2 separate regions of the Homo sapiens genome follow, and region 1 is linked to region 2. The links come from fine-mapping of genetic effects on gene expression. A gene starts in region 2. The other region holds a variant in brackets. All regions are shown on one strand. Distances are between the middles of the regions. Region 1 overlaps ATP2C1 (ATPase secretory pathway Ca2+ transporting 1). Region 2 holds the start of ATP2C1 (ATPase secretory pathway Ca2+ transporting 1).

The links. PIP is the estimated chance that this variant, and not a neighbour inherited with it, causes the effect.
Region 1: its variant is fine-mapped to the expression of ATP2C1 in whole blood (TOPMed, PIP above 0.99).

The regions. Positions count from the first base shown.
Region 1 is chr3:130,933,984-130,939,372 of GRCh38, reverse strand. It overlaps ATP2C1 (ATPase secretory pathway Ca2+ transporting 1), which reads right to left. Exons shown (of 28, transcript NM_001378687.1): 5 at 4,662-4,751; 6 at 1,910-1,945. Among named protein-coding and RNA genes, the nearest start is that of ATP2C1, 43 kb to the right of the region's middle. The variant A/G (reference allele first, on the strand shown) is at 2,745.
Region 2 is chr3:130,892,019-130,897,407 of GRCh38, reverse strand. ATP2C1 (ATPase secretory pathway Ca2+ transporting 1) reads right to left here and starts at 3,324. Exons shown (of 28, transcript NM_001378687.1): 1 at 3,071-3,324; 2 at 2,633-2,818. The coding sequence starts at 2,638. It overlaps LOC107986023 (a long non-coding RNA gene), which reads left to right and starts at 3,487. Exons shown (of 3, transcript XR_001740492.2): 1 at 3,487-4,552. RefSeq lists a silencer at 3,070-3,459 and an enhancer at 3,550-3,769.

The sequences.
Region 1 (5,389 bases), 42 kb before region 2:
TACAGTGGTGTGGGGAATGGGGATTGCAAAGACACACGGAAAAAAGGCAGGACATAAATATAAAAAGGAATATAAAAAGCCCTCTTAAGACACAAGTAATATAGCACAAATAACAAATAATGATAAAGTATTAAGAATTTTTTATACATTTTTGATAAAGAGCTTTTTGATTAAAGCATTATGATAAGTTCAACTGACAGTAAATAGGATCTTTTTGGAGAGGATTTTTACTTGTTTATAGACTATTTTGTTGGTTTCACAGGCATATTTGGTGATGGGTCACATGTGTGTAAGAATCAGACCTAGCAATTTGAAACTAGGCTTTTTATAAAGTTTTCATCCTTTTGTGAGATTTCTATCAAATGTACCTATCATAAACATATTTAATAGTCTCAGCCATAGCATTTAATGTGTATAACAACACTATCTTGTGTAAAATTCCATATTGACTTATGTTAAAATCACAATTTTGTGGTGTTTTTTGAAAACATGGGCTTTCTAGTGATCAAAGAGAACAAGGTACTAAGGTCTTCCATACATAGTGATACTATTTGCAGGAATCCTTCTGAAGTAGGGCACTCCACATATCTGACACATTCTTAAAGACGCAAGAAGGTCCAGTTAGTGGTCCAGTGGGTCATATCACTCACTTGGCTGAATGAATAGCTGCCTTGAATAATGGTTAGCCTGACATGACCTATGCTAGACTAACCAGCTCCACCTGACCATGGGCAACATTTGTCTAAGCAAGAAGATTCCCCTAAAAGCGGAACCCTGATAGTCTACTAATGGAGCTCACAAACCTACTGCAAATGATCTGATTCCAACTGGCTTTCTACACTGGGTTACTACAGAACTAATAACAACTAGGTTAGAGATTACCTTAAGAGGCTGGGATAGTGACAAGAAATACCCACGTAATAAATCGTAGATGTAAGAACAACCATAGTTATTCAAAGTATAGGCTTCAGATTCAAAACAGCACGAACTTCAGGCTTATGCAACAATATTACATTTTTCTCTAAGCTAGAATAATTCTATTCTTGTTAACCATGTTCTAGCTAAAAAGGAAATCTGCTGATATTGTGAAACACTGTTCTAAAATCTACAGAAGTTTCAGATATTTAAATAAACATAAAACTAAGCCTACATTTTTATTTGTCTGTACTTATTAATAGAAATCTTGACAGTATCTCCACATTATTCATAGTAATTTTTAAAAGGGGCTACTTTACATATGTTTTATTTACTGTTTGAATTACTTTGATTCAGATCACAACACCCCTTTTGTGGAGGAATGAGAAATTGTTTTAAAGGGAGGGGAGAGGAGGTCATGCCAACAATGAGTAGAACCATTTTAATTCCTCAAAACAGACTCAAATAAAATAAGGTTAAGTGATAAATTCAGCAAACAAGTGTAGCATTTGGCTAAGGGAATCAGTCACAGAAACCTGTGGAATTTTCTTCAAATGGTACATCACAGATCGACCTTTTAATTCTATACTTTTTTGTTTCATCTAGACTTAGCTCTAGTAGGCATTAAAACATAACAGTGTTATGAAACTATAAACTCTGGTCCAATTTTTTAATTGAAAAAATAAAAAAGTTTACTGCTGGATTTTATTTCTATTACTATGCTTTTTGTTTCCATCTGCTTCAGTTATCCTTAACATTATCAAATAAAAAACTAGATTTTCTTCATCTCACTACCTAAATCAAAGCAGTTCCTTAGTCCCACACCACAAGCTTCCCTGAAGAGTTGTCTGTATCTGAAATTACTTGAAAAACAAAGAATAAGTTGTTCTGATGGGCATTACAACCCCCCAATAACGGTAGGTTCTACCACAAGACACCTTGATTTTTAAGCAATTAACATACCATTTTCATGTTGGCAAAATAGAGTACTTACCTGAACAAAGGCAACTGTAACAACGATAAGTATTGCCTAAACAAAAGAAACAGGCTTTTAAATCAGACATTAACTTGAGAAGTAACTGTTAACTGTATTTTATTTTTCTAACTATCTGCAGTCCCACAATAACAGATTTTAAACACTGAGATCAGCTGGAAAAGAAATCACAACTTTACCTTAAGGCCTGTGGGGAAAGAAGCTAACAGTTTACAGTGGCTTGCCATTACCAGGGCAGCTTCTCTAACTTTTTGATCTCAGGGCCCTTTTATGCTCTCACAAATTGAGGACCAGCTTTTAAGTGGGTTATATATACTGATATTTACCATATCAAATTTTTCAACTAGTCAGTTTTAATTTCTACTCATCAACTCATGTAAAAAATTTTAAACCTCATTACATGCTAACACAAATAACTTTATGAAAAATAAATTTTCCAAAAAAATTGTGAGAAAAATAGCAGTGTTTTAAATTTTTATATTTTAATATATGACTTTCTAGAAAGCTAGTATTCCATTTACTATAACATATTGTTCAGGCTAAAGTGTATGAAGAAAATCCAGCCCCATACAGATACGGTGGAAAAGGGAGGAGCATTTTTTCTTTTTTATTTTTTTTAGGGAGGAGTTTTTTTTTTTTTTTTTTTTGAGACAGAGTCTTGCTCTATTGCCCAGGCTGGTGTGCAGGGGCGTGATCTCAGCTCACTGCAAGCTCCGCCTCCGGGGTTCACGCCATTCTCCTGCCTCAGCCTCCCGAGTAGCTGGGACTACAGGTGCCCACCACCACGCCCAGCTAATTTTTTTTTTTGTATTTTTAGTAGAGACGGGGTTTCACC[A/G]TGTTAGCCAGGATGGTCTCAATCTCCTGACCTCATGATCCACCCGCCTCAGCCTCCCAAAGTGCTGGGATTACAGGCATGAGCCACCATGCCCAGCCTAGGGAGGAGTATTTTAACAGCTTTTTCAGATGATTGTGGATATTCTTCTTAGCTACTACACCAAAACTCAAGTGCTAGTTACTTAAAGGTAATCTGCAATGTAGAATATAAAACTGTATCAATGCACCTTTCATAATCTATTATATCGAAATCCATTGACCTATCTTGCATTTGAATGGATCTTTTACCATTTCAGATTTTGTAATGTCACGCATTGGTCTTCTGGGAAATATTGGTTCACTTGGTTATTCAAATCTTCCCCAAGATTGCCCAAATCTTCCCCAAGGTTACCACATTTCGTAACAATTTTTTTTTTAAAAAAAACACACATTTGTTGAAATCACTACTGATCTAATTGGAATAAAGTCTTAAATACTGGGATGCTATCCAGCCCATAAGAGTGCATACAAATTTTCCAAAACCCTAATTATTGCTTGAAAACCTGAATTTTATCATTAGCAACAAATTCTGCCAGTTGCCTTTCCTTGGTCTGATTCGCTCATTTAATTCACTTTCAAAAATAAGAATCTGCTGGTTACCCAAGTCCTAACACCCATAGTTTGTCTATGAGTCAGTCTTTCAAGTACAAGGCTAGTTTGCCTCACAATCATCACCCTTCCTTGAGACAACCATTGTATTTCAATATACAAAAGAGTTTCATGCATACTTCCCATTTCATTACATAAATTATTATGAAGGTATGTACTCAAGGGTCCAGATTTAATAAAATTAATTTTTACTGCTTTATCAAGAACATTCTTAAGAAACATGAAAGAAAACAATGACTGTTAACAAAGTTGGGTGCCATTACTCTGAATTGTGCTAAGGCTCTAACAGTTTCACCTGCCATTGTTTTTGTGCCATTAATGCCAAAAGTCTATAATTGAAAGACAAATAATGTTTTAGTATTATTAAAATGGTTGTGACCTCACATACCCCTTGAACAGGTCTCAGGGATACCTGGGATACTGCAAGCAATAGTTCAAGAGCTGCATCTCTACAATAACATCTACAGTGTTCTTAAGCATAAGTGCTTTTACTTGCTACAAATTTTTTATACAAAAATGAAATGGAGCAAGAAGGAAAAAGATGAGAAAACAGTTCAATGAAAGCTAGAATAACCTAGCTGGAAAGAATAAAATCATATATAGTAAATGTATGCTGTAAATACAGCATGCACTATAAGGAATATTTTTAATTTCACATGTCAGGCTTTAGTTCACAACTAGTCAAAATATATTCTCAACTGCAAAGTGAAATAAATTTAAAATTTAATCAGATAATTATAAAATTTCATATTTGTGAAAATTACCAGTTAAAGAATTTTCATGTGTGCTAATCATGGACTTTTGAACATTACTCAAAATTACTGTAACTATAATAAAAGCAGAATTTGAGCCAGGCACAGTGGCTCACACCTGTAATTTCGACACTTTGGGGAGGTCAAGGTGGGAGAATCACTTGAAGCCAGGAGTTTAAGACCAGCCTGGGCAACATAACAAGACCCTGTCTTTACAAAAAAATTTTAAAATTGCTGGGGGTGTTAGCATACACCTGTAGTCCCAACTACTCAGGATGCTGAGGCAGAAAACAGCTTGAGCCCAGGAGTTCGGGGCTGCAGTGAGTCATGACTATACCACTGCACTCTAGCCTGGGCAATACAACAAGAAACTGTCGCAACAAAAAGAATAAAATAAAAGCAGAATTTGGACACTGAAAAAAATCTGAGAGCACTTCTCAATTTATTTTCCAAAATAAAAACCAATCCCAATTTATACACTTACTCAACAGATTAAAAATATGTAATTTTTTTCTTACCACAGTGATACTGACGGCATCATCAAACTGATGCATTAAAACACTGATGACTGCAGAAGCCAGAAGCAGCATAATAAGGGGATTTTTAAACTGAAAGTAAAAACAAACAGCAATTCAACACAGTTTTGTACATGACAGTTCTCTCAGCAAAGGCTTTAAAAAAAAAAAACCATAAGAGCATGACTGGAAAATTACAAAAGTCTATACTCAGTTTATTTTATGTATCTCTTCAATTAACAAAAAAAGCGTTTATACTTAACTACATTTAAAAGCTTTTTAACAGTTCCTTTTCAGAAAAAAAAAATTAAATAGCAATACTTAAAACTAAGAATTAACCAATTCCTTATAGTATACAGCAATTTTTGGTATATTAATTTAAGAAATACAGCTGTTCTGAATTTCTACTGAGGCTAGAAAAAGCAGGAGAAGATGATTTTTAAGCTAAAAATTTGGGCGAAATACTGAATAGAACACTGAGATTCAAACATTTCTCAAGTACAATGGTGTAGATTACAATTCTGTGGTTGACTCACATATCACAGAAAAATTCCCTCCTCTCCACAAAAGAAACTGAAGATTTTCCTCAAGGCTAGCTTTCCTGGTTTCTATCTACCACAGCAAATCATATCAAAGAAACAGGACTATAGCATCAACCTGATCAGAAAGCATTTAAATGACCTCACACCAGAGTCAACCCCAAATTCTTCCAGTTGGACATTCTATTCCTT
Region 2 (5,389 bases):
TCTCATTTACAGATGAGATAACTTAGAGGCTGAGAAAGCTTAGAAGCCTAGTAACTTGTCAGATTTTTCAGGAGAGGAAAACATTACTTGTCGGGCTTCAAATCCAAACCTGTCTCTTTCTGTACTGGACCCTGGCTTCTTGGTAGAGCCCTAACTTTTTCTGTAGGCTTAAAAGCACTAATGCCATAGAAAATTCCTTACCTAACTCCACTTATCCCTCAACTAACAATGACAACTTCATTTTGAGCATTTGGCTACTACTGTTCCCCCTTCCAACATTTAACTGTCATGACAATATTAATGCCAGGTGGCCTATTAGTATGTATCAAACATTCAGCTAGGCAATTTATAATTAACATTTACCGAGCACTTACTATGTGCCAGATACTGTTTGAATGTTTACAACAACCTCATAAGGTAGGTTCTATCATTATCTTTATTTTATGAAGAAACGGAAGCACAGAAAACTTTAATATGCACAAAGCCAAATGGTAAGCGACGAATCCAGCATTCAAATCAGTCTGCATGGTTCCACCACAACTCAAGCTCTTAAACGTTATCATTCCTACCTCACAAGAGAATTTATACAGGGTTTCTCATTTAATCCTCTCAATTCTGTGAGTTAAAGATTATCAATCCCAATTTATAGATGAAGAAATACAGGCTCAGAAAGGTGACGTAATTTACTTAAAATCACACAGCTTTAAGTGGTTCAAGACAAGTTAGTCAAGACTTGAATCCATTTTTGTTTCACACCTCCAAATTGTTAATACTACACTATATCAAAGAAGGATGAAAACTACAAAAAGGCAAGTGAACAATAAAAAGGCACAGGTATCAATCTATGTAGTTTAATATGGTCAGTCACTTTTGAAAATTTCTAGGCTATATACAGGCTCTTCTTCAAACTGTTTATATATAAAAAAAAATGTGACGATAGGGAGAAACTGACAAAAATGGTCTCTTGATGGTCAAGAATAACGGGACAGAAAACCCCACACGTTTTTAAGAACTGTATAATCTTTTACTATGAAACCACAAAATTCATATTTGGCCACAAAATACAGAGACAGACACAAGTAGGCACCATTCTCCTATCTCACAACCACCCCCTCCCACCTCAGTAGATAATGAGAATCGGCTTTATTACTCATGCTCTTCCTCCTGAGAGATCAAGAAACAAAAGCAACATGAAAGAATCCACCTACTTTAGGCTACCCTCTTAAATCTGGTACCATTCTGAAAACAAGCTCATAAACATACATTAAATGTTAGAAGTTATTTAAGATGTTTCTACCAAGAAACAAGTATATGAATGCATTTAACATTCTTTGTCTCATGTGCAGAATGGATTTGCCTTTCTTAAATCAATAAACTTAAAAGAGAGGAAAAAGGCTCAGAAAAGTGACTTTCCTTATCACCAAAAACATCACTGCTTTCAAATGTTTCTCAAGACCCAATTAGACAGTATAACTCCTCTGCAGTTATACACTTTAGTATTTCAGAAAATGTCTTCCGCCAATTATCCATCCAGAGTAAAATTTGTCAATATAATCATGCCTCTCATCATATTCCCTACATAGCCCAGAGGTCTCAGAGAGCAAAACACATTACTGCATCTATAAGAAACACCCATTTCAAAATTACTAGTCCTAGTCAGACAATCAAGCTTACATTCTCAACAATGGAAAAACAAATTAGAAGCAGCCAGCAAGACTGCAGCTCCTTTATACCAGACACATATTTTTTAAAACAAATTATACCAGAGGAAAAAACTGTCATTTGTTAAGTATCTTTTATAGTATTTTGCAGCCCGGTTAAAGGCAGAAGAAAAAAAAATGATCACGCACAAGTCAGAAGTCAGTCCAAAGAATAAGTGTTGTTTCAGGAGGGGGAAAAAAAATCACTTATTCACAGTTGTTCAACAATTTTAAAAATAATCAGTGCTGTGTAGGAAAAGCATTAAATATTTTAACGAGGCCAAAGGGATCATGTAACATGTGAATGACGATCTAATGTGTCCAAAGTGTACAGTGAACAAACAGGTTCCGCTGTCAGCCTCCTAAATGATGTTTTGAAATAGGGTGGAACTTTAAGAAAAGCACTCATCTCATAACATTTCATTAAATTCACTGGGTTTTTTTTGTGAATTGAAAAATAATGAGTTTTTTCCCCAATGCTAGACATAATAAAACATGGCTTGCTTTCTTATAAATGAATCCTGCCACACACCACATCGAGGCTTGAAACGCCAATATACAGAGATGCAGCCCCATCCCCTTGTCCCCCATTTCCACTTCCCCTCGAGTAATTCCTTTCAAATAGCTATTTAAACATGCACAGACGCTATCTGAAATGAAAACTTCCCTCTCATTCCCTAAGCTGAAGAGAGCAGGAATTCCTCAAGAAAGCTGAATCAAGCTCAGTCACCCACAGAACCTCAATCTCTCAAATGCCCCATGTTACCAAAATAAAAGCTGGATACCCTAAGTAAGCAAATCCTTGGACACTTCACATACACAGTAAATAAATAAGCTCACGAAAATAAAAAGGTGGAAAAACAAAGACAACTTAAAAGCAAACCACCACACCCTCAACTCCGCGTTGCAACCGGTCGGCCAGGGGCCTTTACCTTCATTTTCCATCGAAACTGCACTCGGGTTGATGGCTACAAAGTCTTTAGTGTCAGCCACGGCCACACTGGGAATAGAGAGGAGAGGAGGAGGACAAGGAAGAGAAGCCCCCGGAATCCCAGGCTGTCACCCCCGCTCCCGGCCACGCGTCCCACGGCTGCTCCCACCACCCCTAGCAGCAGCATCTGCAAGAGAAACCAGGAGAAGCGGCGCTGACGAGAGGCTGAGGAAGGAGTTCCCCGCCCAGCCACTATCTCGGGAGCCCCCCTCCCCAAGATCCCGCACCCGCCCCGTCGTGTGCCCGCAACGTCCCCAGCTCACGCCAGCGGGGCGGCGCCCTAGAGATGCCCCCCCATCCAGGGGATACCCGAACCTCCCCTTCCTTCAGAACCTGGAAGTTTCTAGAAATGGGGGCAGGAGGTAATACTGGTACCCACCCAAAGCCCCGGACAGCCCTCCTCCAGGCTGCGGGGTCTCAGCCGCGGGGCTCGCGGGGGCGCCCCGCGCGCCTCGGGAGAAGAGGAGCTGCTCGCGGGGCAGCGGTGCGAGGCGGGAGCCTGCTCCCGGCGTGAGAAGAAGCGAGCGGGAGGGAGGAAGGGAGGGAGAGAGGGCGGGCGGGGAGGGGAGAGAAGAGGAGGTGAGGGGACCCGTCACGGTCCGCCGGGCCGGCTCCGCGAGGCCGTGCTGGTCTGCTCCCGCCTCCGACTCCTGCGCTCCGCCCCTCCCCGCCGCCGGCCGCCCAGTCGCGCCCCGCACTCCTGGGCCAGCCGCGAACCCAGCTTTGTCACTATTACTTCCGCTGAGAGAGGTGCGCGCAGGCGCATTCGTGTTCACGGGCTGGGAAGGCGGAAGTGAAGTGAAGGCCGAGACTTCGGCCCGGAATGGACAATGTTTGGGTTTGGATCCGTCCGGTAGGAGGTCGCTCGGGGTTGGTGGCCCGCCTTGTTCTTGCTGGCGCCTCCCTTACCCCAGGGACGGTGTCCGCCCGTTTATATGCACCCCCTGAACGCGAGGGTCGGAGATTCGCCCACGCCCCGTGTCGGCCACGCATTCCCGTGGGGCGGCCGCGGGGTCGGCCCAAGCTGAGAGTCATGGCCGCTGTCCCCGAGGCGTTTAAGCGCTCTCTACAAAGTCTGTAGGGGAAGCTGCTCCCGTCGGGGTGGCAGTCACAATCTCAGCAGGCAACGTTGAGGCCCACGGAAGGAAGGGGCGAGGTGTCCATGCTCCTGCCAGGGACTGGAGCACCGTGAGCAGCCTCCCGAGTCTCGCACTCTCACTTGCAAAACCCTGCACTGACTGCTTGGTTCTTGGGGGAGCCGGTAATCGCGGGGCGACTTCCCAAAATTCTTTAAGGGGTGTGCTTAGTTACCATGTGTAATGAGAGAGCAAGGTTCAGCCTCAGAGAGCTCCAGGGAGAGCTAATCTTTTTCATTCGTTTGTGGTATATGGAACTGGGGAGAGGCTGGAACAGCAATTAGAAACCAGTCGTACAGCTGTCGAAGCCAATGAACGAGCACTTCTTTTAGCAGCTGTACCTTTGTCCAGTGTCAATGCCTTTTCACACGTAAACATTTCACTTGCTCGGCATCTTACCCAGACCCCTAATAAGTGCTTTTTAATGAACGATTGGTTTTAATAAACCGTGGTGAGCCAGACATATAATGTTGAACAGAAGTCCTCTCACACCCATAACCACTAGAGGGCAGGGCTTCACCTACTGAGTTGGTGATCATCCTACAGAGAACTCAAAAGAAAATTTCCGTATATGCTAGATGTGTTTTTCTCCATCAACACTTAGACACTTTACAAATTTGCTTTTTATCTCAGGTCCTGTAACATATCGCAGTGTGCTCTCTAACCACACGTTCAACATCAGAATTAACGGACGGGGTTGCCTGTGTTTCTATATTTGTTCCCAAGTAAGTGGTACTAGACTAGGATTGAAAATTCTGGACAGCTTTCTAGATTTACCTTTCTTTTAAGAAATATTGAACTTTTATTCAGCGAGGTCACTTTTAAAGATGAACCCATAAAAATCACTATCAAGTAGATTTCTAGTCTTAACGAGTTAACTATGATCCACCTCTGGCATGCATGGTCAGTGATTTTTGTCTGCACAATGACGGAGCCAAATTAACGGACGGGGTTGCCTGTGCTTCTATATTTGTTCCCAAGTAAGTGGTACTAGACTAGGATCGAAAATTCTGGACGGTTTTTAGATTTACCTTTCTTTTAAGAAATATTGAACTTTTATTCAGCGAGGTCACTTTTAAAGATGAACCCATAAAAATATCAAGTAGATTTCTAGTCTTAGGAGTTACTATTTATGATCCACCTCTGGCATGCATGGTCAGTGATTTTTGTCTACACAATGACATAGCCTGTGATTTGTACAATGATTGTGATCTCTCGTAATCAATTTGTAACAGTTATTACTGTACATATTCGACCTTGAAACAGCATTATATTAAAAACAAAAGCACCTAAGGTAGGAAATTACACAATATAAATACTTTGATATTAACATATGCATTTACAAAATAGAGGGTAACTGTACAGAATTTGGTATTGGGTCACTTTAGCTGAAACATTTTTCTAAAGCAACTTTTCAGAACTATCTGTTGTATTAATATACTGCAATACTCTAGCATTAACACTGAATCTATAACTCCTCCAAAAGATTTATAGCTCCATGGTTTATTCCTAAAATGACTTAAACTGAAATTTTACTTTTGGTCCCCTAAATTATGAAAATC